6 separate regions of the Homo sapiens genome follow, and regions 2, 3, 4, 5 and 6 are each linked to region 1. Evidence: fine-mapped expression QTL. A gene starts in region 1. Each other region holds a variant in brackets. All regions are shown on one strand. Distances are between the middles of the regions. Region 1 holds the start of PLXND1 (plexin D1). Region 2 overlaps PLXND1 (plexin D1). Region 3 overlaps IFT122 (intraflagellar transport 122). Region 4 has its middle 21 kb from the start of SNORA7B. Region 5 overlaps PLXND1 (plexin D1). Region 6 overlaps COL6A5 (collagen type VI alpha 5 chain).

Region 1 (5,071 bases):
ATAGAGGCTACCTGAGAGGGTTGTTCTGAGAACTGGGAATTGTGACATGTGATGCCCCTAGCTGGCACTCCACAAGTGCTATTGTTTACCCCAGACTCCCACACCTGGTACATACTAGGTGCTCAGGAAATATTTGCAGAATAGGTGAATAAAAGTTGGCCTCAGGCACACACCTGTTTGCCAACCATGCAGCCTCCTCAGAGTACCGACTCATGCCCAAATACCTGCGTCCCCTGCCACGCACATCCCACTGCACACCTAGCCCTGTCCCGTTGTACCAGTGTCTGTGCAGTACACCTGTCTGCCCTGTGCGTCTTCAGGCCCCAGCTTGCTGGCACACAAGTCCATGCAGACATCTGCAGGGCCCTGGTGCACACCTGTGTGCCTCCTTGCACACCTGCCACACCCATGCACCCATCACCAACGTGCAATGGTAACTCTGACAGGCTCACGCAGTGGCCCCAGAACACAACTTTGGTCAGGCATGCAGTCACTTACTGCGCCCTCAGCATGCACCTGTGACCCTCACGTGCATACCTGGGCTTTATGCGCACCTGGGTACCTGTGGCAACTTGGACCCCTCCCAGTACGCCTAGGTATGCGCGCCCATGAGCCGGCACTCACTTGAGTCCCTGCACATGCCCACCTGGGCCATACAGGCGCCAGTAGTACCCCTCGGGGGACACCTGTATTCTCGCGTGCACACCTGGGTTCCACGTACATCTGGATCTCTGCGCGCTCCCACCTGTGACCCACTCAGCTCACGACCCGCTCGGTTCCCGCCCGCCCCCGCCCCCGCCCCCGCCGCCGCCGCCGCCGCCGCCGCCGCCACCGCCCGGGTGTACCTGGATGTTGAGCTTGCGCTCACAGGCCGGTCCCGTGCCCTGCACCACGCTGTCGAGCACCGCCACCACGTCGGGCGCCGGTTCCACGAAGCAGGCGGTGCGCGCAGCTCGGATGGCGGCTCGCACGTCGGCGAAGCGGAAGGCGCAGAGTGCGGCCGGAGCAGCGCGGGCCGCGGGGGACCCCTGGGGCCGCTCGAAGACAGCAAAGAGCCGCTCCCGGGCTGGGAAGACCGACACCAGGCGGCTGTAGAGGTCGCCGCGGCCCGCGCCGCCCGCGCACTGCAAGCCCAACTGGATGTAGGACTCGGTGAGCTTCTTGGCGTCGCCGCCGGCGCCGTGGGGCAGGCAGATGCGCGCCAGCAGGCTCCGCGCCTGGCTCTCCTTGTCGCCCGCGCGCGCCTCGCTGTTGAGCGCCAGGTACGCGTAGGACTGTGCACCCGGCGGCGGGTCGGACGGGTGCAGGAAGGCGCTCACGAAGCCCAGCTTGTGCTGCTCCTTGGCGCCCTGCTTGATCTTGAGGATGTTGTCGTCGGAGGGGTTGAGGTCGAAGGTGAAGAGCTTGGCCAGGTCGCCGCGCGTGTCCAGGGAGCGGATGGCGATCTCGGGCGTGTTCTCGAAGCGGTGGTCCTCCAGGCTGCGGTTGCGCGGGAAGAAGGAGCTGCCGTAACCGGTGTACGTGGCGCCCACGAGCAGGCGGCTGCCCCCCGCGCCCGCGGCGGGAGGCAGAACTAGCCCCACGGTGGACGCGTTCGGGTGGTTGGCCGCCACGTTCAGCATGCTGGGGAACACCGTGACGGGCTCGGCGGGCGGCGCGGCGGGCGGGAAGCGCACGGCCACGGCCGAGATGTTGCCCCGGCGCCGCAGCTGGCAGAAGCCCTGGTAGATGGACCCGCACACGACTACCAGGCCCTGGCCGGGGTCCAGCTGCAGGATCTTGTTGTAGTTGTCCGTGAGGCGCCGCGGGTGCTCGCACGAGGCCTGCGGCAGCTGCGGAGCGTGACACAGCGGGCTGTCGGGCACCGGGCCCACGGCCGCCTCGGCCTCCAGGCTCAGGTTGGCGCCCGACAGCTGATAGAGGCGGTTGACGGCCGCCAGGTACACGGTCCCCGCCGCGCCGTCCAGGGCGAAGTTGTTGGTGGGCGTGGGCGAGGGGAACCGACGCTGGATCTCCAGGGCGCCGGCCCGCGCCGCCCCCAGGAGCAGCAGCAACAGCAGCGGCACCGGGCACCGCGGCGGCGTCTGGAACGGCGGGGGGCTGGCGGCGGCGGCCCGGGCGCTAAGGGGTGCGCCGCCCGCGGCGCGAGGAGCCATCCGGGCGTGCGCGGGCTGCGCGGCGCGGCGAGTGCATGGGGCGAGGCGCGGCCGGGAGCCGGGAGCCCGGAGGCGGCGGGAGGCGGGGGGCGGGCCCGGGCCGCGATGCGCTTCCTGCCCGCGCCAGCCGCCCCCGACCCCGGCGCCCGGGCCCGGGTCAGCCTCGCCGCGCAGCCCGGGGGCGGGGCGGGGGCGGCTCCGCTGCGGACACGCCCTCACTCCCCGCCCCGGCCCCGCCCGCCCCCGGGACCCCCGCCTGCCCCTGGCCGCCCTGGGCCACGCCCCGCCGTCCGCGGGTCCCGCCGCCCGCGCCCTCCAGGACCCGCCCGCGGCCCCAGGGTCCCTCCCCGTAGCCGCCGCCGCCGTCGCTCGCTCTCCTCGCTCTTTCCTCCCACTTGGCCGCTTGGCCTGCCTCGCTCGCGCCTGTTTTCTCTTTTCCGCCCTCTCCCCCACCCCGTCTCTCCCTCTCTCTGCGTCTCTCGGTCTCTGCGTCTCTCCGTCTCTGTCCCCACCCCAAACTCCGCGCGTGTGGCGCTTCTCCGGGTTCTGCCTCTGCTTCTCCTTCTCCCTCCGACTCCGCTTCGCTCTCCAGTCCCTGGCAGCCCCGCCCCCGGCCCTTTCTAGTCTCCTTCTCTCTCCTGCTCCGTTTTTCCGTCCCTGACGCTCGCTCCCTCTCTCCGTGGCTCCCTCTGCCTCCCCCTCGGACCCTCCGTCCCTCTCTCGGTCCCTCTGAGCTCCCCTTTCCTTCTCCCTCTGCCTTCCCGAACCCTGTGTCTCCCCTCCACACTCAGCCTCCCTCCACCACCTTTCTCAGGCACTGTCCAGGCCTTCGCTCCCCCGGTGCCGGCCAGTCGGGCCCCCCAGACCCCATAATCTGTCCCCCAAACCCCAGACCCATAAAAGGGATTTACAAGTGGCAGGGCCAGAGGGACCAGTGCTCAGGGTCAGATATATAAATGAGGAAAACATGGAGAGAGGAAATAGTTCCAGCCAGTGGCCCACAACCGATAGCCAGAGCAAGGCCTTGGTCCTGGAGCCCACAGTTGCCTCCTGTGGAGACCCAGCCGCACCCCCACCCCTGGCACCCCCGCCAGGCACTTTCCCTGACATCCTCCCAGGCTTAGTGGAAGATTAGTCCCACAAAAGCCGGCACTGGGCAGGGTTCTTGATCTCAAAAGCAGCGTTAGGGGCAGGCAGCCTGGTTCCAAGGTCACAGCCCTGTGAGGACCATGCGCCGTGGCTGTTTTGCGGGGGTGCTCACACAGGGCTAGCCCGTGCCAGACACTGTGCCAAGCACTTGCCATGTACGGGCTCTCTTTTTCCTCACAGATTCCCCCGAGGCGAGCGCTATTGGTAACCCATCTTCCAGATATGGAAACCAAGGCTGAGGGGAAGGGACTGGCCCAAGATGCACAGCTCATGAGGAGCAGAGCTACAGTGTTTGAAAGCAAAAGCCCTTCAGCTCCGACCTCTCAGAACGGGGCCTCCCATCAGACCCCCAGCTTCCACAGGGTGCCCGGTGGGCCTCACTCTGAGAGTAGCGGGACCTCATTTTCCTCTTTCCCACCCAACCAGGAAGGAAGGGCAGGGGTGTCTGTGCACCATGGGGCCGGCAGGAAAGGCTGGGCCTGCAGCCGCCCCCCACTTCCCTCAACACCCTCGCCTTCCTGCCATCCTGCCCGCCTTGTTCCAGACCCCTCAGCCCTGGTCTGGCCACTGCTTTGATGGCCGGGAGTGTTGAGCTGCAGGAAATTGGAGGCCCCCTCCCAGGCCCATCCACCCACCAAGAGCCACTCAGGGGACTGCCCGTGGGACTGTGTCCCTGTCTTCCTCTCTGGATGGAGAAGGCGCACATCGTGCCACCCGTGGGGGCCAACTGCAGAGCCCAGCAGGGGTGCATGGGGCCTGCCTCCATGCCCCTCCTCCTCACTCACATCCTCAGTGCCCCCACCCCAGTCCATCCGCTGGTCTCTCTGTCTTATCTCTCTCTCTCCTGCCCCCACCCATCTCTGTTCCTATCTGTCTTGCTCCTCCCGTTCACTCTCTTTGTCTCTCCTTCTCTCAGTGTCTTGCCCCCTTCCCTTTCCACTCTTCATCTGTCTCTCTGTGTCTCTATCTCTGTCTCTCTCTCTGTCTCCCTCCCTATCCCTCACCCCCACTCCCTCTCCAGCCCCTCCTCTCTTCCTTCCTGTCTCCCGCTCATCTGGTTCATCTTGCTGCATCCTGCAGCTCCCCCCACTGAGCCGTGAGGATAATGCTCAGTGTTGTCTTAGACCAGCCTGTGGTGATGATCCTGGGCACTTGGGACACAAGCTCCCTGCCAAGCTGAGCAGTGGGGTTTAGGAGCTCTCTAGGTGAAGGGTATTCGGGTCTGAGTATCCTCACATCAACTGGAGGTGAGAAGTGCTGTGTGGTCTTGTGCAAGGCACTCACCCTCTCTGAGCCTCAGTTTCCTCAACTGTAAAATGAGGACAATCGTAGCAGAACACCTGCCCCTGGGAGGGTGTGAGATGGAGAATATAACATAACAGGTGTCAAGCACAACAAGGCTCTTAGCAAACACCAGTTTCTCCCCGCCTTGTGGCAGTGAACCATGACCCCTGAAGCCCATGTTAGAGCCAGGAGTTGGGGTGGGGGGCATTGCAACTAAAGACCAGGGCTCCACCTCCTGTCCTGAGCCCCAATGTGGCTAGCAGAGCCACCAGACGGTGAGAGTGAATCCTGTGCCCAGCACTGCCCTACCAGATCTTACACCATCCTTGCAGCCAGCTGACTAGGCTGTGGTCAGCAAACCCATTTCACAGATGGGGAAACTGAGGGGCATTAGCAAGGTAAGGATTGAAACCCAGATCTGGCTCCACATCTTATGATTTCTCCCTTCTACCCATTAGCTGGGAGCACCATCAGGCCAGGAT
Region 2 (5,071 bases), 23 kb before region 1:
CTGGGTCCTCCTCGCATCCCCTAGGTTAGCGCACAAGAAGCAGGCTGCTGCCCAGTGTGATGCTTCCCACCACCATAACCGAGCCCCTGCTGTGTACACAACCCTGGGCTGGGAGCTGGAAGGAAGAGACGTGATTGAGATGGGGTCCCCAGACAGGAGCAGGAGTCCTAGTGGGGTCCCAACTGTGGAATCTGGGGGTCCAGGAGCAGCTCAGGGCTCCCGTATGGTTTCACTGCACCGACTCCACTGGGCTCTCCTCCAGTGCTGGAAGCCCCCTGCTGCCAAGCCCCTCTTCGAATAGAATTAAGCATGGCCCCTGCCAGGCTCTTCTTCAAAGCAGTTATGGGGCTCAGGTGGGAGGTGCTGCGCACTGCGAGCGAGCAGGGGATTCCAGGCTGAGGCCATGGGGCCCCCTCCTTAGCAACTGCCGGGGTAGACAGGGCTTCAGGGATTCCTGAGAAGATTCTCTGAGCTCAGTGCAAAAAGGCTGGGGCTGCAGAGGCTCTGGGCGCTGGGGCTGCTTCCCCGGGATGTGTGCCCAGAAAGGGGCCCCAGTGACCTTCTGCAGGGAGCCAGGGCACCAGGTGCCATGCTGGTTATCTCAGTTGTGCCATCTGGAATATGGGCAGGACCAGCCTTTGCCTGGAGAGATGAGCTGCAGGAAGGCTGGTGCCCTACCCCAGCCACCCACAGCCCTGATACGCGCCAGGTCTGAGAGGGGACGAGCTGTGATCTCAGGACCCTGGCACATCCCACCTGGCTAGGCCTTATCACCCCAGCCAAGGTCCCAGGCATCCCATTTGGCCATCCTGGCACGGGCTGCGGTGGCCTTAGAGGCTTCCTGGGCAAAGGTGAGAGGCCACCTGGAAAGTGAACAAGTCTCAGAAACCAACCAGGGGCGAGGTATGTGGCATGTCCATTTTTACTTTATCTTTACACTAAAAAGCCTAGATTGATCCATTTTTACATTTCCTCCTCTTGCTCCCACCCCATTTAGTTGATTAAACCCAACCACCATGCAGTGCTGGGGCAGGCCTGGCCCCTGACAAGCATGGAGTCAGACTGCAGGGTCCTAGGGACTGACATGAGGACCTGGGAGCGTGTGGTTTCTGAGGCCAGCCCATCCTCCCTGTCCAGGGACAGCTGCAGCACCACCCACCCTTGGGACGCCACTGCTCGTGCAGAAACCCAGGCAGGGCCCTTTCCACCCAGTTCCTGATTTTCACAGGAGGGGAGAATATGGGCTCCAGGGGCAGAGGGACTTGGGTTAAGGCCCAAGTCTGGTACTGCCTGAGTCGATGACCTTAAGCGAATCACCTCCACAGGCCTTGAGGACAAATGCCCTGAACACCTAGGGTTGTTGAAATGGTCTTCCTACTGCAGTGGGGGTATAAACTGGCTCAGGCTTTCTGGAAGGCAGCTGAGCTCAAGGTGTAGAACTATGGCCACACTACCAGCCCAACAGGTCATTTCTAAGAAGCGGTCTTCAGGGAATCATCAAGGATATGCATAGTGCCCTGGCTATATCAAAATGCAAAAAAGAGGAAATAATTAGTATGTCCAACTATAGGGCATGGGTTAAACGCACCGTGGTATGTGATGAGCCCCATATAGCTGTCAAAGCCAAAGCTAAGGCGGAATATGCAAAGGCATTGAAACATTCTCAACATGTGAATTTTTTAAAAAAGGTAATGAAACAGCAGAGGCGGAGGGGCCCCCTAGCCTGGCTTACCGTGGGGTTTGGTGAGGCCTCGCACCGAGACTGGTTGGAAACACAGGAGTGCTGCTGGCTGCACCAGAAACAGGGCCACTGTGCCGACAGGCAGCTGGTACAGCTGGAAGACAAGGAGGCCCCTCAACTCCTGGTTCCCCACCCCTCAACTCATCCCTGTCCCAGGAACTAGAACCCAAAAGGCAGATCCCAGCACAGGGAAAGGTCTTTCTCATCATCGGGGCTGCCTGGGAAAGATTGGGTCTTTAAGGTAGTGAGCTGCCTGCTAACAAGAGGTATACAAATAGGAGTTAAAAGAGACAGGGCCTTTAGAAGACTAAACTGAGTATAATCAAAGCACTTTGCCCCGTCCCACCTGGCTGTCCACAGAGGCCAGGCATCAGGCAGTATGCATTTATTGTAGAATGAATAAATGTGCTGGTGAATGAACAACTGAAGGGCCTGTCTACCTCTACGATGCTATGATTTTTCTTCTCAGGGCCCCCTGAAAGCAAAGACCCTTCCCGGGGATGCGTTCCTCCCTCCACCAACTGGAGGCAAGCCACCCAAGCCACTCACGCTGTGTGGGGGTACACTTGTGCAGTGCGGCTGCAGTCGTAGATGGTGAAATTGGCCTTGACGATGTTCCGCCCATTGACCCTCACAGACATCTCAACAGTCACGTGGTCTGGAATGGATGGGGGAGCCAGGGGAGGACATGGGGGCAGGGGATTGCCACCAACATCAGAAGCTGTGACCTCTGGCCCCCTGCCATCCCCATGCCTGACAGTCCACCGTTCTGCCCCTCTGGGGCTGTGCCAACAGCACAGCGTGCTTACCCTGGTTGGGGGGGAAGGGCGGAAACTGGTCCCTCGGCAGGAGGTTGCAGTAGGCAATCTGGTGACCAAAGGCAGGGCCTGGGACCCGAGCCACAGTGCGGATGTTGTTCCCATAGTCACAGGCCATCTCCATGCCACTGAGGCTGGGCAGGCTGCCCGAGATCTGCAGGATCATGCCCTGGGGGCAAGGAGCCCTCAGCTCTGGGGG[T/G]CCAGGCTATGCTCCTCACAGCCTGCCCCAGGGCTGTGCACCAACCCAAGGTCTGGCACTGCCTGAATGTCCCCTGGGGGAAGGGGTAGTGGTGGCCAGGACTCAGGGCCAGAGGGCTATGCCCTACATGTGACCCTCTGAGCCTCAGTTTCCCCAGCTGCAAAATGAAACATCATCTTACAGTGGTCAAGAAGGCTCTGCATGATCTGGCCCCTGTGACCTCTGACCCCATCCCCTAATACTCTCCGAAACAGCTGATCTTGTTTCTACCTCAGGGCCTTTGCACTGGCAGTTCCCTCCACCCAGACGCTCTTTCCAGATGCTCACCCTGGCTCCCCTCCTGCATATCTTACCTGACCTGGCCTGAGATGTCTGCACCCACAACCCGCTCCCCACCCCTGTTCTGCTTTCATTTTCTCCACAGTACTTAGCATCACCTTCAGGTTTTATCTTGCCTATTCTCCTCCCCCATGAGCCTGGGGCCAGGGGTCTGTCTTGATTACTGATGTGTCCCCAGAGTCCAGAACTGTGCTTGGCACATAGTACGTGTTCCATAATATTTGTCCAATAAATGAAATGACTGAATGAATGAGGGAAGGACTCTGTGATGTGTGATAACGGCAGGGCAGGGCAGAGGAGCCCCAGATGCTGAGCAGCTACAGGCCAGAGCCGGGCTGTCAGAGCCCCCCAGGGTGAGAGAAGAGGACCCTCATCCTCAGAGAAGTCACTGAGAGCCAGATGCATGAACCCCAGGCCTGTCTGACCCTCGGCTCCCACCCCTTGCCGGGGCCCAGAATCCCCCACCGCCAAGGCTGCCTGCCAGAGCCCTCCTGGCACAAGCCGGGGGAGACCCAGCCCCCTGCATTGCAGGTTTATCTGTTTCTGAGAAGGAGAAATTTCAGTCTGGCACCTGGTGGTCCCTCCCTCCATCCCCTGTTCTGGGAAAAGGTGGGTGGAACTCACTGTCCTCCAAGCCTCCAACTTGTACCCTCCCTCCTGGGTCTCTAGAACCCGCCTCTTGAGTTTAGATTCCAGCTCTACCACTCCCTAGCTGTGCGACCTGCAGCAAGTCGTTTCACCACTTGGTGCCTCAGTTTCCCCATCTGTAAAATGAGGATGTCAAAAGCATCTGCTTCATAGGGTGTGTAAGGCCTAACGGAGGTGGACGTCAAGCACAGAGCACGTGCCTGGCACTTACTAGTTGGTCAGGAAAGCCCAGTCATTGTCACTGTTCTCATTATTTGTCTTCAGGTCCTTGGGGCACCATGGGTGGGAGTCTCCACCTCTCGGGGCCTGGGTGCTGGGTGAAGGGAGGCTCCCCTGTGTCCCGAGCTGGGTCTTGCCTCCCCCAGGACTCACTGGGTACTCCTGGCGCACATCGATCTCGGAAGGCAGGACGGTCATGGCAGGACAGCGGCTGGGGCCCTCGCTGGCACTGGTCCAGAAATGCTGCTGGCTGGAATTGGTGCAGTCCTGCTGCAAGGTGCACCTGGGGTGGCACCGCAGGGTCAGGACCCAGGTCAGCTCCTCCCACCCCCACAGCCCTCCTGGTCCAGCTGTTGCTGGTGTCCAGCCTCACCGCGTCTCCAGGGCACACCAGCCGCAGTAGGCGTCCGCCGCACCCACGCAGTCCCCACAGGTGGAGTGCACGTTGCAGGCGGCGACCTTCACCCTGGCCATCTGGGGGCAGAGGTGGGGGCCCAGCTCAATGGGACTGCCAGCCTCTCCCTTGGGGAGGTGGTACGGTCAGCATGGTGCGGGCCATGAGAGGCTGGGGAAACTGAGGGTCAACACTCTAATGGGGGAACATGGGAGACAAGGCTTCCCTGCAGAGGCAAGGTCGGTGTTGGGAGGCGCAGGACAAGGTGGAGTTAGCAGATAAGGGAGATGGAGGAGGAGGGTGCTCCCAGCAGAGGAACAGCGTGTGTAAAGGCCAGGCAAGCAAGAGGGCTCGGCTGGTGCTGGGATGGCGTTGGGCTGGGGCTCTGGCCTCACCTGGTGGGACGTCATCAGGTAAAGGTAACCGGAGTCTGCTGGGTCAAACTGCATGACATGGTGCACGGGCTCCCCATAGGCCACAGTCACCACCCGCCTGCTCACCACCTGCATGCTCTCGTTCAGGTTGATCTGTGGGGGTAGTGGGCATCAGGGTGCTGGAGCCCATAGCAGGGGAGGCCAAACCCAGGGGACAACCTGAGCCCGGGTCTGGGGGCTCTGCCTCCCCATCCTGTCTTGGACCCTTCAGGAGGGGTGGGAAGTCACGGGCGTGCAGGGGAGGGCACAGGGCCGGGCCTTGATGCTTCTGCCTCTGCT
Region 3 (5,071 bases), 160 kb before region 1:
GCTCGATTTTTCAGGCTGCTCTTTGTTAGAAAAAAATAATTTCTTGGGCTGCTTTTTATTAAAAGGGAAGTTCTGCCGAAGACTCTTTTACCTTCACTATCTGGCTAAATAATTTCTTTCTAGCTCCTGTATCACTGCGTCTTCCTCCTTCGAATCCTGTTTTCATGTGTCTCTTAAAGCCTTTATCAGAGTACTGTTCTGTATTTCATCCAATCTAATAGGTCATTGATTATAAAATACCATTGTTTTGTGTATCAATAAGAAAGCAAAAAATGCTGCCAGTTACACTGAAACATCATCAATTATAAGACACAACCTTAGAGGTGAGAAAATGTGAAAAAAAAATGTAAGCTTTAGAATTGATGACATATGGTAGTTCTTTGTGAAAGTGTCTGTTTCACACCTTCTCACTGGATAGTAATTTCCCTGAGGGGAGGGAGGGATTATGATCTGTTCATATCTGTTGGTGCCTGGCACCTAAGAGGGACTCAGTAAGTATCTGTGGATTTACTGGCCCTTAACACATTCTCTCATGTTGTCTAGCCTTTATGATATTATTAGAAGAGTTAATACCCTCAACAGTTGACCCTTTGAATAATTTCTTGTGTCTGGCTTCTGGACAAGAGGAAATCAGGACAAAGAGCTAACTACTGAGTGGATCATGATTGAATGGGCTGCTGTGGTGTGGCGGTTGAATGGAATTTGCAACAAATGCAATTCGTAGTTATTCTTTTTCTCCTCAGTACACACACAGTGTTTCTTAATGGCAATAAAGTTTACTTTCCTGGCCATTAGCAGACTTCATCATTTTGGTTCCTAATTGTCTTTTTCCCTTGTCTTCTGTTCAGTATAAATGACATCGCATTTAAGCCTGATGGAACTCAACTGATTTTGGCTGCCGGAAGCAGATTACTGGTAGGATTTTGTCTTAGTTTCCTCTTAAAGTGCTTCCCTAACCTCCCTCTTGTGAGTACTCTGAAATTTGACCCTTTTTTTTTTTTTTTGAGATTAAAAAGGCAAGGGTGGAAAAACCTTCCCTATTACTTTTTAATAGGGATGGAAATGGGCTATTTAAAACGGGCAAGTAAACTATCAGATAAGAACCTGTGAACAATACCACCTTTGGGGTCATTCATCTTTCCCTTTTTACTTTGAGACACCCATGAAAGAGTTGAAAACAATCACAATGCCTTTGAAACTGGACTGGTGTCAGTTTACATTTTGTCCCCCAGAAAAATTCAAGCAACAGGACTGACGGTGCTGTGTCCATGAAAAGTCAGATAGCCTGACCCCAACTTTTAGGCATTGGCCTATCTAAACAGTTCCATATGGATGTTGTCCTATTTTTCATATTTTCAAATAACATAAGCTCCCTCTGGAACCTATCCAGGTATATAAAAGTAATTTTCAGAGAACCCCTTATGTTTGACCAAAAAACCTTTGTATGATCTCTCTTTCTGTCTAAGTCTACTTCCTCTTCTCTGTTGTCTCTAGATACGCAGACTGATTAATCTCCATTCTTTGTATGGTTAACTACATAATCTTAAAACATGGTTAAATTGTTCTGCAGACTTCTCTCCAGTGTAAACAATCCAAACTCTATTAGTTTTTCTACATAGGTTATCTTTTCCAATACTCTAACCATTTCAGAAAGTTTCCGCTTGATTTCTCAGATGGTGTGTGTGTGTGTGTTTTTTTTTTTTTTTTTTTTTTTTGGAGACAGAGTCTGGCTCTGTCGCCCAGGCTGGAGTGCAGTGACGCGATCTCGGCTTACTGCAAGCTCCACCTCCCGGGTTCACACCATTCTCCTGCCTCAGCCTCCTGAGTAGCTGGGACTACAGGCGCCTGCCGCTACGCTCAGCTAATTTTTTGTATTTTTAGTAGAGACGGGGTTTCTCCGTGTTAGCCAGGATGGTCTCGATCTCCTGACCTCGTAATCCACCCACCTCGGCCTCCCAAAGTGCTGGGATTACAGAGGTGAGCCACCGCGCCCGGCCAGATGGTGTGTTTTTAAACTCTCCACATAGTGATAGATGTCACATGGCTATCAAATACCTAAATCCATATTACAGCTGGGTTTTATTTTATTTCTTAGAGACAGGGTTGTGCTCTGTTGCCCAAGCTGGTGTGCAGTAGTGCAGTCATAGATCACTGCAGCCTCAAACTCCTGGGCTTAAGGGATCTTCCCACCTCAGCCTCCCGAGTAGCTAGGACTGTGGACACACACCACCTCGTCCACCTAATTTTTATTTTTTTTTATTTTTATTTATTTTTATTTTTTGTAGAGATGGGGTTTCACTTAGTTGCCCAAGCTGGTCTTGAACTCCTGGTTTCAAGCAATCCTCCCACTTCAGCCTCCCAGAGTGTTGGGATGACAGGAGTGAGCTACCATGCCTGGCCTACAGTTGGGTTTTATAACATTCCCTCCTACTTGAAAGC[C/T]CAGAGTTCTGTGACTTTCAAATTCTTGGTAGCAAATATGAAACATCTATTATGTTGATTTAGTGCAGAGCTGGCATTAAAATTTAATCATGTTGTAGCTGGCTCTTTTTATGGGCTAGTTTTATTTAGGAGGGCCTGCCTTGATCAATCATATATCCAAATTCAGGTAAGGATGAGTATAAAGAATTTCCATGGAGTGAGTAATTGAACCTTTGGTTCTCAAGGATTGGTAGTATATTCCTGGTCACATAGTACATAGACCTGGGTCCTCTACTTCTTGGTTACCCAACTTTAAGTCACGTTGTTTTTGGTTTTGCAGTGCAGTTTTTATTGGCTACAGATTTAGAATATTGACACGTATTGTTATAAAAACAAAAATAGCAGTAGCAACCCTGCAGGAATTCTGACTAATAGATATCACATAGATAATCTGTATTTGTCTCTTTTGCCAGGTTTATGACACCTCTGATGGCACCTTACTTCAGCCCCTCAAGGGACACAAAGACACTGTGTACTGTGTGGCATATGCGAAGGATGGTAAAAGGCTGCTCTGGGTTTCCATTCTCTATAATAGCCTCATCATTGTTCATTTTTCTCTTTAGTCACTTTTTAATTATTTCTAGTAAGCTGGAGTACAAGTTGCAAGTTCAGAAGACAGTGAAGTTGCTAAGACTTCAGTTTGGTCATTCAATCTAGCAAGTATTTATTGAGGTCATCTATGTTCCAGGCACTGTTCAAGGTGCTTGAGTTACTTCAGAGAAAAAAACGGTGGTCCCTCCCCTTATGGGGCTTCTGTTTTATGGGGTGGTGGTGAGAAGTGAGGGAGGAAGAAAGTATGAGGGAAGACATACAGTAAACATAGTAAAAAGGTAAATTAAGTAGTATGCTGGAAGGTGATAACTGTTATGGAAGAAGAAAAAGTAGAGCAGAATGAGGGGGATTGAGAGTGCTGGGCAGGGCAGGGGGTTGGGTACAGTATTGAATTAGACTAGTGAGGGTGGGCTCATTGAGATGAGGACAGGTGAGGAAAAAGACTTTGAAGTCAGGAGGCAATGAGATTGTGCCAGTGGGCATCGGGGGGAAGAGAGCTCTTTGCAGAGGAAGAGCCATTGCAGAGGCCCTCAGGTGTGGGTGTGGCTGCTAGGAGCTGGATCAAAGAGAATCGGGAATTGTAGAGGATGAGGATAAAGTGGTAACAGACATGGGGTGGTCAGATCATAAAGATTTTGATTCTCAGTCAAAATGGAACTACTGAAAGGTCCTCAGCAGAGGAGGGATCTGATTTGATTTGTATTTTAAAAGGATCCCTCTAGTTGCTGAGTTGGAAACAACCTGCAAGAGGTGAGGGTTAGGACATCTGTGTGAGGAAGCATCATCCAGACAGGGGGTGATGGTGGCTCAGACCTCTGTGGGGGCAGAGGAGGTGATGAGAAATTATCAGACTCTGGATATAATGGGAGGGTGGAGCCAACTGGATTGTCTGACAGATTGGATATGGGCTATGAAGAAAAAGGAGTCAAGTTTTTGACCTGAGGACTGAAAGGTTGGAGTTGCCCCCCCCACTGAGATGGAAAAGACTGCAGGTAGAGAAAAGTTATGGTTGAAGATCAGAAATTCAGTTTTATACATGCTGAATTTGAGAAAAGTTGATGATGTCGGAGAGGGGAGAGAACTGCTGGAACAGAGTTGTTGAGTAGGCAAGAGGAGATGGGATCTAGGGCATAGACGGGGTATTTGCTTTAGATAGGGGCACAGTAGGAACTGCAGAGGCCAGCAGATGGGGACAATGTGGTAGTAGGAATCTAATGGAAATTCTCAATTCCATTTTTTTTTTCTTCAGTGAAATAGGAAGCAACAGCAACTGAGAGTGGCAATGGGGAAGGGAGGTTTCAGAGAGTTGAAGAGAAAGGGAAAAAGTGTAAAGTCACTGCCTCAGAGAATGGGACAGCGAGTGGACCCAGGAGGTGTAGTGAGATCCCCGGTGACATGAAGGGCCCTCTTGAAGATTGTGATCATGAATTGAAAGTGAGATTAGTTGGTGTGATTGTGTCTTTTTCTCCAGCGATTTTGAGCTGCATAGTTGTAGAGGCAGAAGAGGTGAATTTAACCAGAGGTGGTTTTGCAAGCACATTTGAAGATGAAGTAGGAGGGCAAGGGAGCAGAAAGTGTATACAGATAAATAATTATGTACATTAACCTTGAATTGTTGGCTGAATAATGAAGGGAGAGAGGACAGCAATGGAGAAGTAGTAGGTTCTGGTGGTGTTGAAGGATTGTTACAGTTGGGGTACCAGGTGGGTTGGGAAGGAAGGGAAGTGGTGCATGAAACTGAGATTTAAATTTATTTTAAAATAAATCCATGTTGTCCCACAGCATAGGATTAGTGGGAAGAAATGGGCTTTGGAATGAGACAGTTGTGAGTTCCAACCCCAACCCAACACCAGAGTTCTGTGAGTCTGAGCTGGTTATTGAGTCTGAGTCACGATTTCTTCATGTATCAAATGGATAACATTGAGATAACATTCTGTAGCCACTGCCAAGAAGTCACAAAATTGTAATGTTATAATTCTTGAATGAACCTTGGAGATTATTCCAGTCCCAGGTTTTTAACTTCTTTTGGCTGATGGGCCTC
Region 4 (5,071 bases), 230 kb before region 1:
GGCCAGAAGCCCCTGGGAGAACTGGTCCTGCATTCCCATGCATGGCACACAACAGCAATAGAGTCCACAGCAGAAGAATAAGCCTGTTCCTATAATCATGGCCAAAATCATGAGCAATTTTTCCACCAGAAGGGGCCTGATACAAACCATGATAAAAGCCATTGATTTAGATATTGTGGGATCAGACATAGCACTAGTTTACTTGTGTATGTCTCGCAGGGCTGAGAATATGTTTCTGGAGTTATCCAGGAAGTACACACAACATTCAGTCTCTTTAAAATTTATTATTATCATTTTGAGACCGGGTCTCACTCTTTCATCCAGGCTGAAGAGCAGTGGCATGAAAGTGGCTCACTGCAGCATCGACCTCCTGGGCTCAAGTGATCCTCCTGCTCCAGCCTCCGTGTAGCTGGGACTACAGGTGTGTGCAACCACCCAGGGCAAATTTGATTTTTTTGTAGAGATGGGCTCTCACTTTTTTGTTCAGGCTGGTCAATCAAATTTATAGTCCATGTTTCCCACTGTCAATTGTACCCAGAGCTCCAGTGGGGATCTGAGGACAGGTTGGCTAATTATACATATTTAACAGGCTTTGGGAGGAGCTATGAATGCTCGTGAAGGTGGTCCTGACATGTGTATTGAACAAATACGCATGTGACATATGACCCATGTTCAGTTTGGAGTGGGGACCATTTAAATGTGTTACAATTAGGCCCTATATGTCAAAAAGTTTTTTCGGGACACAAAGGCATCCAAGTGTGTGATTTTTGTAGACCGGCCAGAACTAATGCAAGCTCGGTGGTCTTTTTATCAGGGGAAAGTTACTGAAATCAGTCTCTTGTTTAATTAAAGCCGTAGCTGTGGCTGGTAGAATGGGGCCGGTTGTCAGTCAGTCAACATTAGAGGAGTGTAAATGGTTTTAATGTTGCTTATCTCGAGGCCAGTGGTTGTTTGGCTGCTGGGACCTCAGTTTTAAAAATCACCTACTTTGTTTTTCTTTCACCTCTCCACTCTCACCCCTTCATTCCTTCCCTCTGTAGACACTCCTCTCCGGCAATGCATGTTTATCTAATTATGCTCTTGTTTAAGAAACCCCAGAGGCGAATCTTGAAACAAACCAGGCATGGAGCCTCTGTGGAATACTCCCGCTTAGGGGGAGTCATGAACAATTAGTCCACCACCATTGGGCCAAAGTCACAATAACACCAATCAGACCTCCAGACCAGCAATGACCTGAGACAGCCATGGGGACAAAGACACAGACTCTGTGCCCTGCACCATTCCCATATCTCCCATGCCAAGTTTCGCTTTAAAACCCCTATGGTCAATTTGAAAAGGTAAGATGCTCCTTTAGAACGCTCGTTTGACATCTCCATTTGCCGGCTCTCCAATTAAACCTGCTTTTCTTCCCACCAGCCCTCACCTTTCATGTTTGGCTCATGTAGCTGAACCTGGGTCCACTTACAGAGGTTAACGATCATGCCTGCATTTTGCCCAGTGCTTCCTCAATTCTGGAGCACCTCTCTTGTTTGCCGATGGTAGCCTGAGCTGGGCAGGGCATCCAAACAGAAGTTAATGGATTTAGGCTGGGCACGGTGGCTCACACCTGTAATCCCAGCACATTGGGAGGCCGAGGTGGGTTGATCACTTGACGTCAGAAGTTTGAGACCAGCCTGGCCAACACAGTGAAATGCTGTCTCTACTAAAAATACAAAAATTAGCTGGCGTGGTGGTGCATGCCTGTAATCCCAGCTACTTGGGAGGCTGAGGCACAAGAATCGCTTGAACCTGTGAGGTGGATGTTGCAGTGAGCTGAGATCACGCCACTGCACTCCAGCCTCGGCAACAGAGTGAGACTCCATCTAAAAAAAAAAAAAAAAAAAAGTTAATGGATTTACCCTAAGTCACA[A/G]GCCTAGGATGTAGCTGAGCTAGGTCACCTGTTCCCCAGCCCATGCCTGCTGCCCGGCTAAAGGAGGGGAAGGTGAGAAGGATGGCACAGTGGAAAAGATAAGCTCTTGGGAGCAGCCACGTCTTGCTGTCAGAGGGTAAATGGCTATAAACCAAAAAGTATTTGACACAAGTCTCCATCACCTTAGGTTTCTTTTGCTAAGGTCAAGGGCCATGGCCTGACAAAGCCTAAGGAGGTCCTGAGAACATGTGCCCAAGGTGGCTGGGTCACAGCTTGGTTTTTGTTTGTTTGTTTCTTTTTGTTTTTGTTTTTTGAGATGGAGTCTCACTCTGTCGCCCAGGCTGGAGTGCAGTGGCACAATCTCGGCTCACTGCAAGTTCCACCTGCTGGGTTCACGCCATTCTCCTGCCTCAGCCTCCCAAGTAGCTGGGACTACAGGCGGAGTCTCGCTCTGTTGCCCAGGCTGGAGTGCAGTGGTGCGATCTTAGCTCACTGCAAGCTCCGCCTCCAGGGTTCATGCCATTCTCCTGCCTCAGCCTCCCAAGTAGCTGGGACTACAGGCGGAGTCTCGCTCTGTTGCCCAGGCTGGAGTGCAGTGGTGCGATCTTAGCTCACTGCAAGCTCCGCCTCCAGGGTTCATGCCATTCTCCTGCCTCAGCCTCCTGAGTAGCTGGGACTACAGGCGCCTGCCACCACGCCTGGCTAATTTTTTGTATTTTTAGTAGAGACGGGGTTTCACCGTGTTAGCCAGGATGGTCTCAATCTCCTGAACTGATGATCCACCTGCCTCGGCCTCCCAAAGTGCAGGGATTACAGGCATGAGCCACCACTCCCAGCCTAATGTATATGTTTATCATTCAACATTTGTTGAGTAGTAAAAATATGAATCAAATAATGATAATCCTAATGATAACATTATTATTATTATTTTTATTTTTGAGATGGAGTCTCACTGTGTCGCCCAGGCTGGACTGCAGTGGTGTGATTTCAGCTCACTGCAAGCTCCACCTCCTGGGTTCATGCCATTCTCCTGCCTCAGCCTCCTGAGTAGCTGGGACTACAGGTGCCCACCACCATGCTCAGCTAATTTTTTATATTTTTAGTAGAGATGGGGTTTCACCATGTTAGCCAGGATAGTGTCAATCTCCTGACCTCATGATCCACCCACCTCGGCCTCCCAAAGTGCTGGGACTACAGGTGTCAGCCACAGTGCCCAGCCAAGCCCAGGTTCTTTTCATGTAGATGAAGCCTTCAGGTAGCAAACTTCAGAGAGAATAGATGGCAAATGTCTCTTGTCTGACCTTAAAAAGTGTCAGCCTCTCCAGAAAAGACCTAGTAAGAGAAGGAGATTCTCTACAGAATGCAAATTTTCCCACACAAGAGAAAGCTTTGCAGGCCCATTTCAAAATATGTCAACAAAATATATTTTGGGGTAAAATACTTTGATTTCCTTAAGGGCCTACTGTTTCATGATGCTGTCATGAAAAAAAACTAGTTCCAACCATCATGGGCATAAGGAGACCCACAATGGGTAGCTCCTCTCTGTAGGCAGGTGGTCCTGTGGAGTGTTCAGCTCTCAGCAGAGAGGAGGCCCTGGGAGGGTGGCTCCTCTCTGCAGGCAGTTCATCTCATTGTCTCTGCAGCTCTCAGTAGATTGGAGCCCCTGGAGAGGGTAGCTCCACTCTCTACTGGTCGTCCTGACATCTGCCGAACTCCTAGCAGAGAGGAAGCCCTGGAGTGGGTTGCTCCTCTCTGAAGCTGGTAGTCCCAACATCTCTGCAGGCCTGTGAAGCTCTCAGCAGAAAGGGTAGCTCTTCTCTGCAGCTGGTCATCCCATAGTCTGCTTAGCTCTGGCTGAACCTGGGGTTTTTATGGGCCTCAGAGGGGAAAAAGTGTATGCTGATTGGTACTTGGGTGGGCCTGGAAAAGGCACCACAAGTTCCCAGTCCAGTCCATGAGACTGGCAGCCTTGGTTCCCAGCCTTCAGACCCTCCCTGGCCTGAAGGTGGGGCCTCACTGGGGACCGGCCCCCTTCCATCCAGGAATCTGTCTGCCTCCTGCTGCCTTCATGACACCTGAGCTTGGCCCCAACATTCCTCCAAGATTGGAGTGGGCAACAACAGCAGGGAGAAGCCAGGCAATGGGAGCAGGCACTGCTGAGCCTGCAAGGGGAAGGGATGCTTCCTGGCCCTCAAGAGTGCAGGGGTGCCTGAGTCTGCAGCCATGGTTTAGGCAGCTACAGCTGTGCCTGGGAGGGCAGGGATCCTGCTTGCTCCTGGCCTCCCAAGAGCACAGGGAGGCTCAGACCTGCAGCCACAAGTTGGGCAGCTACAGCCCTGCCCCGGAGGGCAGGGCTCCTGCCTGCTCTGTGGAGTGGGAGGCCCAGGTCTGCAACCCAATGGTTTGGGCAGCTGCAGTGGCACCTGGGGAGCTCCCACCCCAACTTGGAAGGGCTTCATGGAGTGTGCAACCCCAGCCACGTCTCCCTGCTGCAGCTGGGAGCTACAGTTGAACAGTTGGCTACATTTCATTGTCCAAAACACAGTGATCTGGAGCAGCCACTGCCATCAATGGTATATCAGAATCATGTTGAAATACGGTGTTCTATTGCTGTTACTGGAAGGAGGGCCTTGGGTGTAAGTTGTCTAGGTTCTTGGTGTTTTGAACAAAAAACTGGACAAAATGCACTAAGTAACAAAGGAATGAAACACAGGATCGAAGTACCAAAATCAGGGATTTATAAAAGAGAGAAGGTACGCCACAGGGTGGGACTGGGCCCGAGCAGCTCAAGGGCCCAGTTACAAAGTTTTCTGGGTTTCAAGCACTCCTTTTGAGGTTCCTATCAGTTACCCCTTATATAGTTGAAGGATTTGGTCTGTGGCTAAGTAAACACTGAGGTGAATGGCACCCTATGCAGATGAAGGGATGGTCCCTGCTTGGCCTGTGGCCACTCCAAGCCACTCTCCCTTTTTGTCTAAGCCATGGTGGAAGGGGGAGGGTTGTAGAAAGAGTAACCTTTGACCCTTTGCTACTAAGGCATGGGGAGCTGGGTTTTTCCTTTCGGTTTAGCTTCAGGAAGTTGGCATTAACTGGCCTTAGGGCCCCTGCCTCCAGACCCAGGTGTTTCCCTTTTGATCCAGCTTTGGGAAGTCAGCACAAATT
Region 5 (5,071 bases), 39 kb before region 1:
AAAGTCCTTCTGCTGCTCCAGCGCGTGGACAAAGACGATGAGGAAGTGCTTGTTGTTGAGTAGTGAGGAGAACAAGCTAATTCCCTCTTCCATGTTGGGCCGGCAGCTCTCAGGAATCTGTGGAAGCAACTGGTGATGGGGTGTCCAGAGGGGCCCAGTGTCCCTGCCTAGCCTAACAGCCAGTGCTTACGACGGCTGCTTGTATGCCTCCTGGGATGGGGAGCTCATTACCTTCCACGGTGGATGCCTCCTAACCTTTGTGACAGGGAACAATAGCTTGGTTGAATTGAAAAGTGGGGCTCAGAGAAGGGTAAGGGTGCCTGGAGGTAACCTGGCATCCCAGTGTGGAGGACTCTCACCTTCCATTTTCTAAGCAGGTTGAGTGGGGTGTACAGGGGGGCCCAATCCTCTGTCTGCTCTACCTGGCCTGCGGGGGCAGCACTTATAATACCCTGAATGGCTGCCTGAATGCCTCCTGGGATGGAGGGCTCAGTACCTTACAATGGCAGATGCCTCCCAACTCCGCATGACAGGGATCAATGCATTAGATGAACTGGAAAGGGGACCCAGGGGGGAGCAGGGTTGCCCTGAAGCAGCCCACTGTGTGTGGGTCGTGGGGTACTCACCTTCCACTCTCCCAGCAGTGGGTGGGTTTCCTGTGCCTGGGAGCTGCCCTGGGAGTTGAGGGTCTGGGAGGGCAGCACGTAACGCTCTTCATAAAGGGAGGAACACTGCAGAGGCAGACCCCCAGCATCTCAGCGGGGCTGGACACCCCCTGCTGGCATGGAAAGGTCACTCACACAGAAAGGGGCACTGGCTTGGGCTGCTGGGGGAAACTGGCACGGAATTAGCTCCCCATAAAGGACTAAGAGGCAGTGGGCCAAGCCTGGGGGCTGTGGAATTCCAGGGGTGTGGCCACACAAGACAGCACAAGACTTAAGGGGAAGCAAAAGCAGCTCCATGTGCAATGGGGGAAACTGAGGCAGAAAGGCTGGGAGTCTGAGCTTTAGCCTGAGGCTGGGAAAAGCTACTGGAGGGTTTCGTGAAAAATGATGTAGTCAAACATGGGCTTGCTTTGGCCACTGTGTGGGGAATGGTGTGGACAGGGGAGAGAGGGTGGTACCACTAGGAGGTAGAGTGAGGGTAGTGGACCCTGGAAGGGCAAGGGGAGGCATGAGAGGCATGGAAGGGATGGGGCAGGAGTCCAGTGGACAGGAGGAGGGAGTGTAGAGACCAAGGGAAGCCTGGCTGGGAAGAGGCACAGGAAGGAGAGAGGCTGGCCTGGGACAGCCCTGGCCGCTTCTGCCCCACCTTGAAAAGGGGAGAGGCAGGCCCAGCTGGCCAGGACAGCGGGGCTGCAGCTGGCTTCCATATGGACTGTTAAACATCAAGTGAGCAGAGAATGACAGTGGAGAATCTGCCTCCAACCCTTCTCCCCGTGGCAGGCCAGGGCAAGTGGCCAGGACGGCTGCGGACAGCTGTGCAGGTTTGGCACTGCTCAAGGGACCCTATAGGCTGGCAGGGCTCAGAGAGGTCGAGTTGCCTTGAGGTGGCTGGCACAGGTTCAGGGCAGGCTCAGGCTCGGGCTGACCTTGGGGAAGAAGGTGCGGGTCACGAAGTGCTTATACTCCAGGAAGGGGATGCCCTGGCTGCGGTTCAGCTCCTTGGTGAGATCTGTCATGTCTGTCTGCAGCTCAGCGAAGCCTGGCGGACACACGGACAGCCGTGAGCGGCCCGAGAACCCATCCCCTAGGAGGGAAAGTTGAGGCCCAGCCCTGCAGGGTCCCCGCCCACTACCTTTGCGGATTTCCTCTCGGATCTGAGATTCCATCTCCTCCATCTGCAGCAGCGTCTTCTGCCAGTAACGCTCAGCACGTCGGCTCTTGGTACAGAAGACGAACAGGGCTGCGGGCAGTGGAGAGGCAGGTCAGGCCTCTGGTGCCCTTTGGAAAGCCTTTATTGGCGCCTGCTGTATTCTGGCCTCCGCTCCAGCTCCTCTGGGCAGGGTGTGGGAGGAGGCCCTGCAGTCCTCCCTCCTGGGCAGGGTTGGGGTGGGGGGTGGGGAGTTGCGGGGAGCTCTCCCGTGGACAGAGGGCTTGGGGAATGGCCAGCAAAGCAATGCCTGATGACCCGTCCTTAGAAAAAGAAGTGTGTAGTGTTACAGCTCTGTTAGAATTTGTCTAGCCCCGTTAAAAAAAAAAAGAAACAGGAATACGTGTGTGTGAAATAGTGGTTAACAGTGGCTTTCCTGGGTGGGAGG[A/G]TTCTGGGTGACTTCGGTTTACTTTCTGCTTTTGAGCATTTTCTATTCCTTCTACAATGACCAGGTGTTACTTGTAAATTAAGAAACTTTTAAAAGCAGATTACAAAGCAATATTACATTATAACCTTTCCTGGGGTGGGGAGGAATATATACATAATGTATTAAAATATCTATTAATATATAGTATTTTCAGAAAAGAGACTGGGAGGGAAGATACAAAAATACACAGGGTATTAATGATGGGTATTTTTTCCTTTTATCATCTTTCAGTTTTTCCAAAAATTTTCTGCATTGAATATACTCACTTTAAAAATAAAACAGCTTTATTGTGAAATAACGTACATACCATATAATCCAGTGATTTAAAGTGTATACTTCAATGGTTTCTTTTCTTTCTTTTTTTCTTTTGAGACAGTCTTACTCTGGCACCCAGGCTGAAGTACAGTGGCGCGATCACATCTCACTGCAGCCTCCACCTCCCAGGCTCAGGTGATCCTCCCACCTCAGCCTCCTGAGTAGCTGGGACTACAGACTCATGCCACCATGCCCAGGTAATTTTTGTATTTTTTGTAGAGATAAAGTTTTGCCATGTTGCCCAAGCTGGTCTTGAACTCCTGGGCTCAAGTGAGCCACCCACCTTGGCCTCCCAAAGTGCTGGGACTACAGGCATAAGCCACTGAGCCTGGCCTAATTCAATGGTTTCTAGTATATTCACAGAGTTGTGCAACCATCACCACTAATTTTAGAGCATTTTTGCTGCCCCAAGAAGACCCATACCCATGCAGCAGTCACTCCCCATTCGTGTTCTCCCTAGTCCCTGGCAATCACCATTCAGCTTTCTGTCTCTATGAATTTCCCTATTCTAAACATTTCATATAAATGGCATCATACAATATGCCTTTGGTGAGTCTTCTTTTGGTTAGTGTAATATTGTCAAGGTGCCTGCCCATGGTGGCATGGATCAGTACTCCACTCCTTCTTACGGATAAATAATTTTCCATTGTATGAATAGATCATATTTCATTTATTCATTTATTGGTTGATGGACATTTGGGTTGTTTTGACTTCCTGGTTATTATAAATAATGTTGCTATAAACGTGTGTACAAGTTTTTGTGTGGCTACGTTTTCATTTCTCTTGAGCAGATAGCTAGGGGTGGAATTGCTGGGTCATAGGTCATAGGGTAATTCTATGTTTCACATCCTAAGAAACTTCCAAAATGTTTTCCAAAGCAGCTGCGCTTTTTTGTATTCCCTCTAGTAGCGTATGATGGCTCCAGTTTCTCTGCTACATCGAGTCTATTACTTTATTGACCATTATTTTAACAGTGGTATAGCCCACCAGACATGTAGGTTAATTTTTCCTGAGTAATCCTCTCTTAAGTACCTTCAGTAGCTCTCTATTGACTGGAGAACATGGTTCCAAATTTCTCTGCTTGAGATTCAGGGACCTGGGCGTGGGCCTAGCATATCCCCTGGCCACCTAACATCTTCTACCCATTGGTGCTGGAGCCAGGGCACACCTCCCCCAACCTCTGGGTGCCTAACCTGTTCCCATGGCCAAGCCTTTGTTCAAGCTGTGCCCCATCCCATCCTGCCTTCTCCCATCTGCCAATCTTCAGAGGGGCTGGGGCAAGGTGGCAAGCCTGCCCTCCAAGGTGTCCTGAGGGTGGGGCTCCTTACCCACCACGGAGAGCAGCAGCAGGACGCTGCAGATGACGATGGACACGATGATGGCCGTCTCGCTGCCCCCCAGCTGCAGTGTGGCGATGGTCTGGTTGAAGTTCCCTACCTGGATCTGTGCAGAGGTTGGGGAAGGGGGTTGTAGCTTTCCTGGACTTATACTCTAGTTCTGCTCCTCACTTGCTGTGTGGCCCTGGGTAAATTACCTAACCTCTCTGAGCCTCAGGTGCCACACTGATAACATAGAGATAACAATGTCCACCTCCTGGGGACACTGGGAAGGCTAAATGAGGGCTTGTCAAGCCCTTGGTCCTGGGCCTGGCACAGAGGTGGCTCAATGCAGGGGGCTGTGATTATCATTACAGCCTGGGAGGAGTAGTGAGTGAGCAAGAGGAAGCAGTTCACGGGGCCTGGCTGCTGTCCCCAAGTATCTGCAAGGCTGCCCTGGGACCAGGGGGTAGGTGAGGTATGAGGACTCAGAGTGCAGGACTGGGACTGAGGTGCAGGTGAAAGAAAGCTTTCCCAGTCAGAGCCATCCTGGGGTGGCACACGCTGCTTGGGAGAGAGTGAGCTCCCCATCCCAGGAGACATGCAAGGAGATAGTGTTCTGGCCCCTCTCTGCTCCTCCTGCTCCCCTGCCTCTACATGGTGCCTGGCAGCCCAGGCTCTAGGATAGACGCCAAGGGGGACAGGGACAATTTCTTATGGTTTCTGATGGTCCAGGTCCAGATGGGGCCCATCACTGACCTCAAGCAAGTCACTAAGTTCTTGGGCCTCAGTTTCCTCATATGTCAAGTGGGGATGTAAAGCTCTGCTTTGCTGGACTGAGCTGTTGAGCGTGAAAACGCTCAGTGAATTCAGGTGCTGGGTGAGGGGCAGATGCTTGGCAGATGGGCCAGGGGTGGGGCCAGGTCTGCCCTGCTCCGGCGCCCCATCCACTCACTGTGATGGGCAGCTGCCCCACGGCCGCGCCCAGGGACTCGTTGACCGAGCAGTGGATGATTCTGTCAGAGACAATCTGGATGTCGCAGCTTACTTGGCCTATCTTGACCCGGTACTCGTGACTCTGGAGCCCCAGGCTGTCCTGCTCCTTCTGTGGGTGCAAAGGGGGAGGATGCTCATGGGGAAG
Region 6 (5,071 bases), 770 kb after region 1:
TAGATATGACACTAAAAGCACTAGGAACAAAATAAAACAAAAAACCTCATATAAATTGGACTTCATCAAATTTAAAATCACTTGTGCCTCAAAGGACACATTTAAAAAGTGAAAATACAACACACAGAATGGCAGGAGTATATTAGCAAGTCATATATCTGCTAAGCATGTAGTATTCTAGCATCTAGAGTATATAAAGAATTTTTATATTACAACAATAAAAGACAAAAAACCCAGTTAAAAATGGGTAAAGCATTTAAATAGATGTTTCACCAAATAAGAGATACAAATGGCCATTAAGTACCTGAAAAGATAACATCATTCATCATTAGGGCAATGCAAATGAAAACCATTTATACCCACTAGAATGGCTATAATAACAAAATGGAAAATAAGTGTTGATGGCAATGTGGAGAAGTTGGGACCTTTATACACTGCTGCTGAGAATGTAAAATAGTGTGGCCACTTTGGAAAACAATTTTGCAGTTTCTCAAAATGTTAAACATAGAGTTATGATAAGACCAAATATTTCACTCCTAGGTACCTAGTCCAGATAAATGAAAATATATATTCACACCAGCATGTACATAAGTGTTCATAGCAGTATTATTTATAATAGCCCAAAGTAGAAACAACCCAAATGTTCATCAACTGACAATTAATGTTTTAAATTATATATATATATATCTATATCCATACAATGGAATATTACTCAGCCATAAAAAAGAATTAAGTACTGATACATACCATAACATGGATAAACCTTGAAAACATACTAAATGAAAGAAGCCAAACATAAAGGCCACATATTGTATGATTCTGTTTATACAAAATGTCCAGAATAGGCAAATCCATAGAGAAAGCAAGTAGATCAGTGCCAGCACCTATAGAAGGGGAGTGGGGGAATGGGGAATGACTGCTATGGGTTTGGGGTTTCTTTTTGGGGTGATAAAAATGTTGTTTCCCCTGAACTGGGGGCTTAATCTAAATGATTTATAGGGTCTTCTCCACATCCAGCTTCCAATGATTCTATCAATCTTCCTGAATGAGTAACAATTTCAAAAGGACTCTAAAAATCAGCCCTTACACCTTTGGTATCTGTTTTAAGGGAGATCTATTTTTTGAGTATCGGCCATTTAAATCTATTTCTATTCTTATAAAGAACAAACTCTGATTTGGTTAAATTCCTGAGATTTTAATTTCCCATGAAGCATTCTGATTGATTGTGAACTATGTGGAAAAACCAAACCTAAGGTAGTTTGTGAAATTGAGCATAACTGTAAGTGAGGAAGCAGTTTTCACAAAGGCTTAGTGAAGGAAGAGACGTGTAGCTGTTGGCTTTTTAAGCCAAATTATAAACATATACGATAGTGGCATAACAATAAAGGGTAGAGAATAGTGACTACATAAATTTTGCGAGGACAGTAATTTTGTATAAAGCTTATGACACAGTGGTTAAGAGGTTAGGTGATGCAATTGCTTCGTCTGGGTTAGTACTGTGGATCGATCTACCTCTTACCAAGCCATTTGGTGCTTCAGTTTCCTTTTCTGTCACATAAGTGTAGTAATTGTACCTCCCTATAAGATTGTTGTGAGGATTAAATTAGATGACACTTGTCAAGCACTGAGAAAGGTGTTTGAGCCTTGGCCAGGGCTCAGCAAACATTAGCATTAATATTTTCAACAAATACTCCAAATGCTTGATGAATTTTATAAACACACTTGGCACTGCTTGACAAATACTTGTTTACAGGTACCATGCCCTAATACAACTATCCTGACAGTTACTTAATGGTATAAAATAAAATTTTTCATAATGTAAATAATTTTCTTTTGCAGAACAAAAGTAAAAATCTTCACTAACAAAATGAAGATCTTGCTAATTATATTTGTCCTAATCATTTGGACTGAAACATTGGCAGACCAGAGCCCAGGTATCAGTATATTTTACGTTTATTATTATTTAGGAAATATTTTTACATCTCAGTAAACTTTAATAAACAGCAAGAAATAATTTATTTACTAAAAAT[C/CA]AAAGTATGCAGCATTTAGTAATTGTTATACAACATCAAACAAACTTAACTTGTGAAAGACAGCACAAAGCCATGAGCAAAAGTCAGGAGTTATGTTGCACCTGGCTAGAAAAACTTTAATTATCCATTAATTTGCTTCAATCTCAATATTACATGTCTCCATGGATTGAGTCAGTCCATTTGTTTATAGATCCATTTGAATCTTGATCTCATAAATGAAAGAAAAGGAACCCGACACAGAAAACAAATTCTAAGTATTTTCGTGACTAAAACCATTGCCTTCCTTTCCTTTTACAAGCATGAAATATATATTTACACACAAACACACACACACAGTCATACGTCACTTAACAATGGGTGTACTTCCTGAGAAATGCATCATTAGGTGATTTTGTCATTGTGTAAACATCATAGAGTATACTTATACCTAGATGGTGTAGCCTACTACACACCTAGGGCATATGATACAACCTATTGCTCATAGGCTAAAAACCTGTACTGCATGTTACTATGCTGAATATTGTAGGCAAGTATAATACAATGGTAAGGAGTTATATATCTAAACACATCTAAACACAGAAAAGGCAATACCTTGCACTACCACATTATGACAGCTATGATGTCATTAGGTGATAAGAATTTTTCAGCTCTATTATAATCGTATTTTTTTGAGACAGAGTCTCACTCTGTCACTCAAGCCAGAGTGGAGTGATGCAGTCTCGGCTCACCACAACCTCTGCTCCCTCGGCTCAAGCAATCCTTCTGCCTCAGCCTCCCAAATAGCTGGGACTACAAGTGCATGCCCCCACACCTGGCTAATTTTTATATTTTTTGTAGAGACAGGGTTTCATCATCTTGCACAGGCTGGTCTCAATCTCCTGGGCTCAAGTGATCCTACCACCTTGGCCTTCCAAAGTGCTGGGATTACAGTGTGAGCCACCATGACCAGCCAGCTTAATTTTAACTGTATGAGGCCACTGTCATATATGCAGTCTGTTGTTGACTGAAATGTCATTATGTCGTTGTGAAGCACACGACTGTGTGAGTGTGTGTATGTCCGTGTCTGTGTGCCTGTCTGTATAGGAAAAGCGAGAGAGCATGCATGAAAAGTAAGTTTTTATACTCTCTTGTAATTACTAAAAACATCATTCAAAGAAGTATTTTAAACTGTGCATTGTCACTGTGTTACTCTAAGATTTCCTGATGCATTTCTGAGTTACCTTGAAAGAGCCAGTTGTTAGACATTTACTAGCACATTACTAATTTCAGGAGCAGCACGGCTGACCATGACTGCTAAGGTAGATACTATTGGCACCTCCCTTACCAGACTCTTCTTATCTGGCTGATGCACCCACCTCCCAGCTACTGTGAATATTGCTGGCAACAGCTCATGGCTGTGCCCCATTTTCTCAGGGGAACTGTTCTCAGTTTTCCCACTTAACCAAGAGGTTCTGCCTACAACCTTCTGCTCCTTCTCTCCAACTTCTGGGGATGGTCTGCAGCCAATGACTGACTAATAGGGTAGCACAAAAAACTGGCCCTCTTGCCTCAAAGAGGGACAGCTCTGCTGTAATTTAGGCTCCAGAGCCCCTTGCAGAGCAGGTCAAAGCTAGACCTTACCGGATGACATGCCCTTCTCTGCTTGTTCCCTGTCCTATCCTGTTTCTCTTACATTGCGCGCCCTCAATCAAGCACTTTCATCTGAAATCCCCATCTTAGACTCTGTTCTCCCACCTGAGACAATTGCTTACTCTATAACGTTTTCAAAAATTGCTGTTAGTTCTCAAACAACTTTGGCCCATTCTTACACTGCTATGAAGAAATACCCAAGACTAGGTAATTTACAAAGGAAAGAGGTTTAATTGACTCAGTTCCTCATGGCTGGGGAGGCCCCAGCAAAATTACAATCATGGCAGAAGTGGAAGCAAACATGTCCTTCTTCACATGGTAGCAGTAGAGAGAAGTGCCAAGCAAAAGGGGAAAAGCCATGAGAACTCATGAGACTCTCACTGTCACAAGAACAGCATGGGAGTAAGCACCTCCATGATTCAATTACCTCCTATTGGGTCCCTCCCATGACACATGGGGATTATGGGAGCTATAATTCAAGATGAGATTTGGGTAGGGACACAGCAAAACCAGTCCAGTCAGGGACTTTCTGAGTTGGTACAATATCAGAGTTTAGGGTTCCAGAACTAAAAAAGAAAAGAAGTTTATTGTCTCTTGTATATCTGTTGGCTAACTTTACTAAAGCCCTTTTGTTTGACATTTTAGCAAAGGCAATTATATTTTCTTCTGTTTGACCTCCAGAAGACACTTTTCTTGGGATTCTGATATACACTTAACACCAGCACATAGTCTTAAATAAGTATTGTGGTCTAAAATACAAAGGTTGAATGATAACTTTGTTTTTGCTTGTTATTTTATTTTGATAGGGCCAGGCCCTGTGTATGCAGATGTCGTGTTTCTGGTGGACAGCTCCGATCACCTGGGACCTAAGTCATTCCCATTCGTGAAAACGTTCATCAACAAAATGATCAACAGTCTCCCCATAGAGGCCAACAAATACCGTGTAGCCCTGGCCCAGTACAGCGACGAGTTTCACAGTGAATTCCATCTGAGCACCTTCAAAGGCAGAAGCCCCATGCTGAACCACCTCAAGAAGAACTTTCAGTTCATTGGCGGGTCCCTGCAGATAGGAAAGGCTCTTCAGGAGGCTCATAGGACCTACTTCTCTGCACCCATAAATGGGAGAGACAGGAAACAGTTTCCCCCAATTTTGGTGGTCCTGGCTTCGGCTGAGTCTGAGGATGAAGTGGAAGAGGCTTCGAAAGCCCTGCAGAAAGACGGGGTGAAAATTATCTCCGTGGGGGTGCAGAAAGCTTCTGAGGAAAATCTGAAGGCCATGGCCACATCCCATTTCCATTTCAACCTTCGGACAATCAGAGACCTCAGCACATTTTCCCAAAACATGACACAGATCATCAAGGATGTAACCAAGTATAAGGAGGGAGCCGTCGATGCTGATATGCAAGGTAAGG

The links. PIP is the estimated chance that this variant, and not a neighbour inherited with it, causes the effect.
Region 2: its variant is fine-mapped to the expression of PLXND1 in whole blood (INTERVAL, PIP 0.99).
Region 3: its variant is fine-mapped to the expression of PLXND1 in whole blood (TOPMed, PIP above 0.99).
Region 4: its variant is fine-mapped to the expression of PLXND1 in whole blood (TOPMed, PIP 0.91).
Region 5: its variant is fine-mapped to the expression of PLXND1 in whole blood (TOPMed, PIP above 0.99). The same link has a PIP of 0.9 or more in blood mononuclear cells.
Region 6: its variant is fine-mapped to the expression of PLXND1 in monocytes after R848 (Quach 2016, PIP 0.95).

What each region holds. Positions count from the first base shown.
Region 1 is chr3:129,604,484-129,609,554 of GRCh38, forward strand. PLXND1 (plexin D1) reads right to left here and starts at 2,193. Exons shown (of 36, transcript NM_015103.3): 1 at 846-2,193. The coding sequence starts at 2,156. RefSeq lists enhancers at 437-1,429, 2,422-3,414, 3,415-4,405 and silencers at 2,152-2,211, 2,362-2,521.
Region 2 is chr3:129,581,835-129,586,905 of GRCh38, forward strand. It overlaps PLXND1 (plexin D1), which reads right to left. Exons shown (of 36, transcript NM_015103.3): 3 at 4,754-4,885; 4 at 4,338-4,438; 5 at 4,118-4,247; 6 at 2,551-2,728; 7 at 2,291-2,399; 8 at 1,733-1,835. Among named protein-coding and RNA genes, the nearest start is that of PLXND1, 22 kb to the right of the region's middle. The variant T/G (reference allele first, on the strand shown) is at 2,759.
Region 3 is chr3:129,449,023-129,454,093 of GRCh38, forward strand. It overlaps IFT122 (intraflagellar transport 122), which reads left to right. Exons shown (of 30, transcript NM_052989.3): 2 at 849-915; 3 at 2,892-2,976. Among named protein-coding and RNA genes, the nearest start is that of IFT122, 11 kb to the left of the region's middle. RefSeq lists an enhancer at 364-1,080. The variant C/T (reference allele first, on the strand shown) is at 2,440.
Region 4 is chr3:129,374,184-129,379,254 of GRCh38, forward strand. No RefSeq gene overlaps it. Among named protein-coding and RNA genes, the nearest start is that of SNORA7B, 21 kb to the right of the region's middle. The variant A/G (reference allele first, on the strand shown) is at 1,910.
Region 5 is chr3:129,565,901-129,570,971 of GRCh38, forward strand. PLXND1 (plexin D1) reads right to left here. Exons shown (of 36, transcript NM_015103.3): 19 at 4,886-5,035; 20 at 3,943-4,057; 21 at 1,798-1,905; 22 at 1,592-1,704; 23 at 627-731; 24 at 1-117. Among named protein-coding and RNA genes, the nearest start is that of H1-8, 25 kb to the left of the region's middle. The variant A/G (reference allele first, on the strand shown) is at 2,261.
Region 6 is chr3:130,371,772-130,376,842 of GRCh38, forward strand. It overlaps COL6A5 (collagen type VI alpha 5 chain), which reads left to right. Exons shown (of 41, transcript NM_001278298.2): 2 at 1,840-1,934; 3 at 4,466-5,065. The coding sequence starts at 1,868. Among named protein-coding and RNA genes, the nearest start is that of COL6A5, 29 kb to the left of the region's middle. The variant C/CA (reference allele first, on the strand shown) is at 2,031.